2 linked regions of the Homo sapiens genome follow. The protein of the gene in region 2 interacts with the protein of the main gene of each other region in a pairwise test. Each region holds a gene or a part of one and is shown on either strand. Other genes may lie near its edges.

Region 1 (3,897 bases), on a different chromosome or scaffold from region 2:
CTTCTGCTTCTACTTCTTAATTACTTGTAAGATTTTTTAAAAGTCAATAGCTTTATTCATAGAAAATAACTAATGAATAATTGTGACCTTGTTGAGTTTAACGGCTCATTTTTCTTATTTCTTTGTGGAGACTAATACGATTGGTTTACTGGGCAGGAGGAACTAGACATTAGAACACTGCAAACCAAAAATCGCAAGCTGGCAGAAATGTTGGATCAGCGGCAGGCCATTGAAGATGAACTTCGTGAGCACATTGAAAAACTGGAACGACGACAGGCCACTGATGATGCCTCACTATTGATTGTCAACCGATACTGGAGTCAGGTAGCTAACTTGTTTATTTGTTCAGATTTTTATTTGACCAATTTAGTTCTCCTTACTGTTCTCTTCATTTCCAAAGTTGTGTCCTTTGTTTCTTCATAATTGTACCTACCCTTCTCCAGTTTGATGAAAACATCCGTATCATCCTTAAACGTTATGATCTGGAGCAGGGCTTGGGAGACCTACTCACAGAACGAAAAGCCCTTGTTGTGCCTGAACCAGAACCAGACTCTGATAGCAATCAGGAGCGTAAAGATGACCGAGAGAGAGGCAAGTGTTCGTGATGGATTCTATCACTGCATGCTATCTGGGTTTTTAAAGTAGAGCTCTGCTTTGAGGCTTTCCATTTGAGGGAAAAAAAATGGATTTTGTTATTTCCAGTTTATAATTTTGGGGGGCTTCTTTTTTTCCCCCTGTGTCCTCAGGGGAAGGGCAAGAGCCAGCTTTCTCTTTCCTTGCTACTTTGGCCAGCAGTTCCAGTGAAGAGATGGAGTCTCAGCTGCAGGAACGTGTGGAGTCTTCCCGCCGAGCCGTGTCCCAGATTGTGACTGTTTATGATAAATTGCAAGAAAAAGTGGAGCTCTTATCCCGGAAGCTAAACAGTGGAGGTGAGGCAAGACCCTGGAGGCCGGGAGTAGTGGAGGAGGAATAAGAATTCATTTTTGCATGCTAATTTGTAGTTTGCAAGCTTACATATTTATTTTTATTTATTTATTATTTACTTTTTAAGAGATAAGGTTTCACTGTGTCACCCAGGCTGGAACACAGTGGCACCATCATAGCCCATTGAATCCTCGAACTCAAGCAATCTTTCTGCCTCAGCTTCCGAATAGCTAGGACTATAGGCACGTACTACCACACCTGGCTAATATTTTAACCTTTTTGTAGAGAGGAAGTCTTGCTATGTTGCCCAGGCTGGTCTCAAACTTGGCCTCAAGAGATCCTCTCTTCTGGCCTCCCAAAGTGTTAGGATTACAGGCATGAGCCACTGTGCCTGGACTATATATTTTAATTAAATTTTTAGAAATTCTAACCTTCAGTGTTACTGGTAATGTCTTCATTATGGCATATTAATCTTTTATCAGTGCTTCTCATTTTGAGCCACATGACAGTCCTTTAATAAGCTGAGGAAAGAGTTTATCAGCTCTATACTGATATACTCTATTAATGACAGTTTTGTAAATAGCAGAATTAACTTTATTATTTAATAAACAGCTCTAATATCTGGATCTGTTTATCGTGTATGTAGGCTATTGATTTATAGTGATAATACTTTATTTTAAATAACAACTATATTATTTAATTATTAGTTACAGAATTTTGACTTGAAAAAGTTAATTTTTACTTAACTTATTTTTCATTATCGCTAATGTTTTTAAAAAGAGTTGGTGCAGGTTTTAGAGTTGACAGATGATCTGTATGGTTAAAAGGATTATTAGAAAATATTCTATGGATGAAAGAGTATTTGAAATAAAATAATTATTTGGGATAATTGTGTTACTCAGAGTTAATGCAAAAATTTAAATTTGTACAGTAAAGTATTTGTGTAGCTAGGTTACATCTTTAGTCATTTGTGGCATAAATACCTTGCTCAAATGCAAAAAAAATGCCTTGATTTCATGTTTTCAATAATAATCATGGTCTAGTTGTAATATCTTAATTTCCCTGCTTATCATTAAGATGTTTAACCTTTCATTTCTGAAGGAAATAAGTTGAATGTAATGGAGGTTGAACCATTGGATGAGCATATAAGAATTGTATTATTCTGTAATTTTGCTTTTAAGGGTAATTGGGCTAAGTTGTCAACAGAATTAAGCAGCTTGTAGAAGGCCTGTGAAAATTTGGTCACGGGTTTCTTTTGCTTTTCCATTAGATTATGCATTTCTGTATTTTATTATAAGGAAAACAGATACTTGTTTAAAAATATACAAGTCAGAAATACAAATAAGTAGACTACAAAAGTTTCCCCATTCTCATTTCTCAAAAGATAACCATTCTAAACAATGTGTTTTATGTCCTCTCAGACTTTTGTACTTTTGTATTAATATCTTACATCTACTTGCATGTCCCCAGCTAAACTGTGTCTTGGTTCAGTAGTTTGGCTCACTCTTCTTTGTTTCTCTAGTTTCTAGCACTGCATCTGGCATCTAGCAGATGTTTAGTCAATGGGGAATGAATGGATGTGAACCTCCCTGTCACCTAATATAAAATAATGGTGCTTTGTGTGTGCACATATGCTTCTTTCTCCTTGGGCTCTAATTGAATAGTTAGAAGGTATTGTTAAATTTTAGTAATATGGTAATTAATATGCCATGTGCATAGACTATGTTAAACTTGATTTCATAAATGAATATCAAGTGAAACAATTGTTTTATTTAAAAAGGGAATAAAATGAGTAGTATATCAAACGACTTTAAAATTACTATTTAATGGCATGCATTTTAAGGTCGGGTTTAAGTTAAAAAGTAGAAACATTACAAATAGCCATGCCATTATTTGTAACACAAAAGGCAATTGCCATTGGTAAGCTGAACTTTCTAAGAGATAAAGATGTATAAAGTATGAATTATAGCATCAGTTGTAACTTGTTTGAAAGTTCATCCCCCTGACTTAGACTGAAAATTGACATTCCTCAAATTCCTAGGACATCATCAATACAGTAGTTTCTACTTCCCCATTCCCTGTGGAATTTCTACCACGCCATTCCTCAATAACACTATACAGTCTTTTATATTTAGGGTAATTCATTATTTGGAGGTTTGGAGTTGTGTTGTGTTTTACAAAATCCCCTATGATATGATAGGCCTTCTAGAGTAAGGTAAGGCCTTCTAGAGCAAGTATAGGCCTTATAGAGTAAGGTCTATAAATTCATCTAACCCTGCCAGAGCGGCACTGTCTAACCTGCCACGGCAGTACTGTCTAACCGTGCCAGGGCGGCACTGTCTAACCCTTCCAGGGCGGCACTGTCTAACCCTTCCAGGGCGGCACTGTCTAACCCTGCCAGGGCGGCACTGTCTAACCTGCCAGAGCGGCACTGTCTAACCTGCCAGAGCGGCACTGTCTAACTCTGCCAGGGCGGCACTGTCTAACCTGCCAAGGCAGCACTGTCTAACCCTGCCAGGGTGGCACTGTCTAACCCTGCCACTGCAGTACTGTCCAACCCTGCCAGAGCGGAACTGTCTAACCTGCCAGGGCGGCACTGTCTAACCTGCCAGAGCGGCACTGTCTAACCCTGCCAGGGCGGCACTGTCTAACCTGCCAGGGCAGTACTGTCTGTTTGTTTGGTCTTTGATTCAAAAGAATTGCATTTATGGGCTTGTTTATAAATTCACTAAACATTTATTGAATTTTATTGTATTCTAGCCCTGTCCTCAGTGCTTAGGATATTGAGAGGACTAAAATTCAGTCTCTACTTCTTAACTCAGGTTATGAATCAGAATAACCTTGGGAGTTTTCTGAGCATATTCTTATTTTTGGCTTTGCCCATGGAGGTTCTTATTAAGTAGGTATGAGATAGGTCCTAGGGAAATGTCTATTTTAAAAGTTCCACAAGTGATTCTGATGGGCAAGCCTAGC
Region 2 (3,897 bases):
CATGAGGCCGGGAGTTCAGGACCAGCGTGGACAACATAGTGAGACCCCGTATCTACAAAAATAAAAATAATTAGCCAGGTGTGGTGGTGTGCGCCTGTAGTCCTAGGTACTCTGGAAGCTGGGGCAGGAGGATCACTGGAGCATAGAAGTTCAAGGCTACAGTAAGTTGTGATTATGCCACAGCACTCTAGCCTGGGCAGCAGAGCAAGACCCTGCCTCAAAAAAAAAAAAAAAAAGAAGTGGATGTGTTTTCATTATGTTATACATAAGGAGGCTAATGACTAAAGAGATAAAGAAAAACTTGCCCAAGAACCAAAATTAGCTGAACTGTGATTTGAATCCAGATTTCTCTGTCTTGAATATCCATATACTACTGTATTTTGTAACGACATACCAAACTGTTTTAAATATCTTTAATACTGTATTCCCAATATCAAATTGCCATAATCACTGGTAGTCTGTGTAATCTAGTCTGAAAATGTCCAGACTACATGATGCTAACTTTGTTGTTTGATTTTTTTAGAGGAGGAAAGCAAATTGATTCCATTAATGGAACTCTGCCTTCATATCAGAAAATGCAAGAAGAGGAGCCTCAGAAGAAATTACCAGGTATCACTGAGTGTCAAAGTTGTATATTTATACTGAGTTCTTTTAAATTCTACCTTTAAATGTAATGGAATATTTAGAATTTTTATATTTTTAATATTTGATGTGCTATATGAGAAAAAACTATTTGATAGATGGGATGTATTTTGGTATTGATAAAATTAAGATGGTCAAAATGAGAAGAGTGTGAAGGAAGAAGAGACAGTTAGATGTATTTGACAGGATTATAGACATCTGAGTTAAAGTATTTCTCCTAATTTAGGCTGAGTTATTAGAGGAAACTTTGTAATGAAATCTTTACCTTTAAAAACATTTAAATATTGGTTGAAAGAATACATTTGTAGCTGTTTTAATATATTAGGATGTTAATGACATCAAAACAAATGTATAACCACACAGCTTTGATTGTCCTTGAAGAAGAGAAAAAAGTTGAAAAAGTTTTTTTTTTTTTTCCTTGTTGCCCAGGCTGGAGTGCAACAGCACAATCCCGGCTCACTGCAACTTCCGCCTCCTGGGTTCAAGCGATTCTCCTGTCTCAGCCTCCTGAGTAGCTGGGATTACAGGTGCCTGCCACTATGCCTGGCTAATTTTTGGTATTTTTAGTAGAGATGGGGTTTCACCGTGTTGGCCAGGCCGGTCTTGAACTGCTGACCTCAGGTGATCCGCCCACCTTGGCCTCCCAAAGTGTTGGGATTACAGGCATGAGCCACCACACCCAACCGAAAAAGTATTTTTATTGGCAAGTTTATAAAAATTATTTCTCTCTTGATTGGATTCAAACTTAAAAATTTGTTTTTCTAAAATTGAATATCCTTGAAGAAAGTAGATATTTTTCCACTTAGATTTGAGTTAAAATTATCCTTAGGAGAAGTATTCAAATACTGATAGCACTCAAATGATCACAAGGCATAAGTATATAGAAACTAGATTACAGGTTCTGTAGGCTGTTAATGTGTGTGGATGCTGATAGGCATACCTTGTTCAGTTACTTTTGAGGACAAACGGAAAGCCAACTATGAGCGAGGGAACATGGAGCTGGAAAAGCGACGCCAAGCCTTGATGGAGCAGCAACAAAGGGAGGCAGAACGTAAAGCCCAGAAAGAAAAGGAAGAGTGGGAACGAAAACAGAGAGAATTACAAGAACAAGAATGGAAGAAACAACTTGAATTAGAAAAACGCTTAGAGAAGCAACGGGAATTGGAGAGACAACGAGAGGAAGAAAGGAGAAAAGACATAGAAAGACGAGAGGTTATTTTTAAGTTTTTTACTTCTTAAGAAAATCATTACATTTAATAAGTGACTATATTTCATTTGATTAAAAAATGCTTATTTTTGAATTTTTGTTTTGCCTTTTGCTCTGCATCATTTCATTCTTACCCTATACAAATCTGATCATTCCTTCCCTTGAGGAGGGAAAGAGGCTTCTTGCTTATAAGGAGTTTTCAGAACTGGTACGTGGTAGAGAAAGCATCCTCTGCAGGTGATATCTCAATCAAAGGAGGATCGACTGCAGAGCTAAGTTGAGTGAGGAGCTAAGGTTAGTTAGGCAACTGAGCAAGTCATTAGACGAAAGCAAGTTTAAGATCCAGATTAAGAGTCCAAGGAATTGGAGAGACAGAAAGATGAGAGCTGGGCATTGAAAGTCTCTCTAGAGAGGAATCAAGAGGATGGGCTTGCACAGGCCTTTGGGATAGTGTTGCTGGGAAAGAAGGGTCCTTAGGAGGACTGGCTGTGTTTTAAAGGGCCAGGGATGGAGCACAGGAAGTTATTGCACACTGAAATAATATAAATAGAATTTTTCCCCCAGATACCAGAATAGAGGGAAAATTATTCCTGTTAACATTTATATTTATGAAGTCATTCTGTAACTTATTAAGAGAAAAATGACTGTAACAAAAGGATGGTCTTCCAACCTGGGCAACATGGTGAAACCCTCTCTCTACAAAAAGTACAAAAATTAGCCAGGTGTGTGGTGGTGTGTGCCTGTAATCCCAGCTACTTGGTGGGGCTGAGGCAGGAGAATCGCTTGAGCCCAGGTGGTGGAGGTTGCAGTGAGCCAAGGTGGTGCCACTGCACTCCAGCCTGGGTGACAGAGCAAGATGCTGTCTGGAAAAAAAAAAAAAAAAAAAAGATCTCGTGAAGAAATGAGAAAATATGATAGATGAAGCCACTTTCTTGGAAGTCTTTAAGCCCATTAATAAAACTAGATTTGCCTAGCTACCCTTAGGCACTAAAGCCACTAAGTGCTAAACTCTGCCTGACTTTTATTGTTGTCTTCCCAGTTTTTGAATCGTGCAAAATTTTTGATTTAAAAATTAAGTATAATTCCTTTTTTTTTTCAGGCAGCAAAACAGGAACTTGAACGACAACGTCGCTTAGAATGGGAGAGAATTCGGCGACAGGAGCTTCTCAATCAAAAGAATAGAGAACAAGAAGAAATTGTCAGGTTAAACTCTAAAAAGAAGAATCTTCATCTTGAGTTGGAAGCACTGGTATGGCTGAAGTTTAAGTGAAATTTATCTGAATGATGATGGAGCTACCTGTTGAAAAATGTAATTGTGGGCCAGGCGTGGTGGCTCACACCTGTTATCCTAGCACTTTGGGAGGCCAAGGCAGGCAGATCAACTGGGGCAGGAGTTTGAAACCAGCCTGGCCAACATGGTGAAACCCCATCTCTACTAAAAAAAAAAATTAGCCAGCTGTGGGCTGGGCATGGTGGCTCACTGTAATCCCAACGCTTTGGGAGGCTGAGGTGGGTGGATCACGAGGTCAGGAGTTCAAGACCAGCCTGGCCAATATAGTGAAACCCCATCTCTACTAAAAATACAAAAATTAGCCAGGAGTGGTGGTGTGCGCCTGTAGTCCCAGCTACTTGGGACACTGAGGCAGAAGAATTGCTTGAACCTGGGAGGCGGAGGTTGCAGTGAGCTGAGATCGCGCCACTGCACTCGAGCCTGGGCAACAGAGTGAGACTCCGTCTCAAACAAACAAACAAAAATTAGCTGGCCGTGGTGGGTGGTGGTGGGTGCCTGTAATCCTAGCTACTTGGGAGGCTGAGGCAGGAGAATCACTTGAACCCAGGAGGTGGAGGTTGCAGTGAGCCAAGATCGCACCACTGCACTCCAGCCTAGGTAACAGAGTGAGACGCCATCTCAAAAAAAAAAAAAAGAAAAATGTAATTGTGTTTTAAAATCTCTCGTGAATTAGTTATGTCTTAATGTCATTAGTCACATTTTCATATAAACAGACTGTACAATATGGTTTACTGAGAAAAGGATAATGACTCAAAAT

The links. The genes of interacting proteins can lie anywhere in the genome.
Region 1: the proteins of ITSN2 (region 2) and RNF20 interact in a two-hybrid assay, tested with the Homo sapiens proteins (one large-scale study listed by BioGRID).

What each region holds. Positions count from the first base shown.
Region 1 is NC_000009.12:101,540,047-101,543,943, forward strand, and holds part of RNF20 (E3 ubiquitin-protein ligase BRE1A), read left to right. Parts: intron 1-156; coding exon 157-324; intron 325-443; coding exon 444-591; intron 592-746; coding exon 747-929; intron 930-3,897. UniProt on the Homo sapiens protein: Component of the RNF20/40 E3 ubiquitin-protein ligase complex that mediates monoubiquitination of 'Lys-120' of histone H2B (H2BK120ub1).
Region 2 is NC_000002.12:24,297,866-24,301,762, reverse strand, and holds part of ITSN2 (intersectin-2), read left to right. Parts: intron 1-523; coding exon 524-609; intron 610-1,591; coding exon 1,592-1,854; intron 1,855-2,948; coding exon 2,949-3,098; intron 3,099-3,897.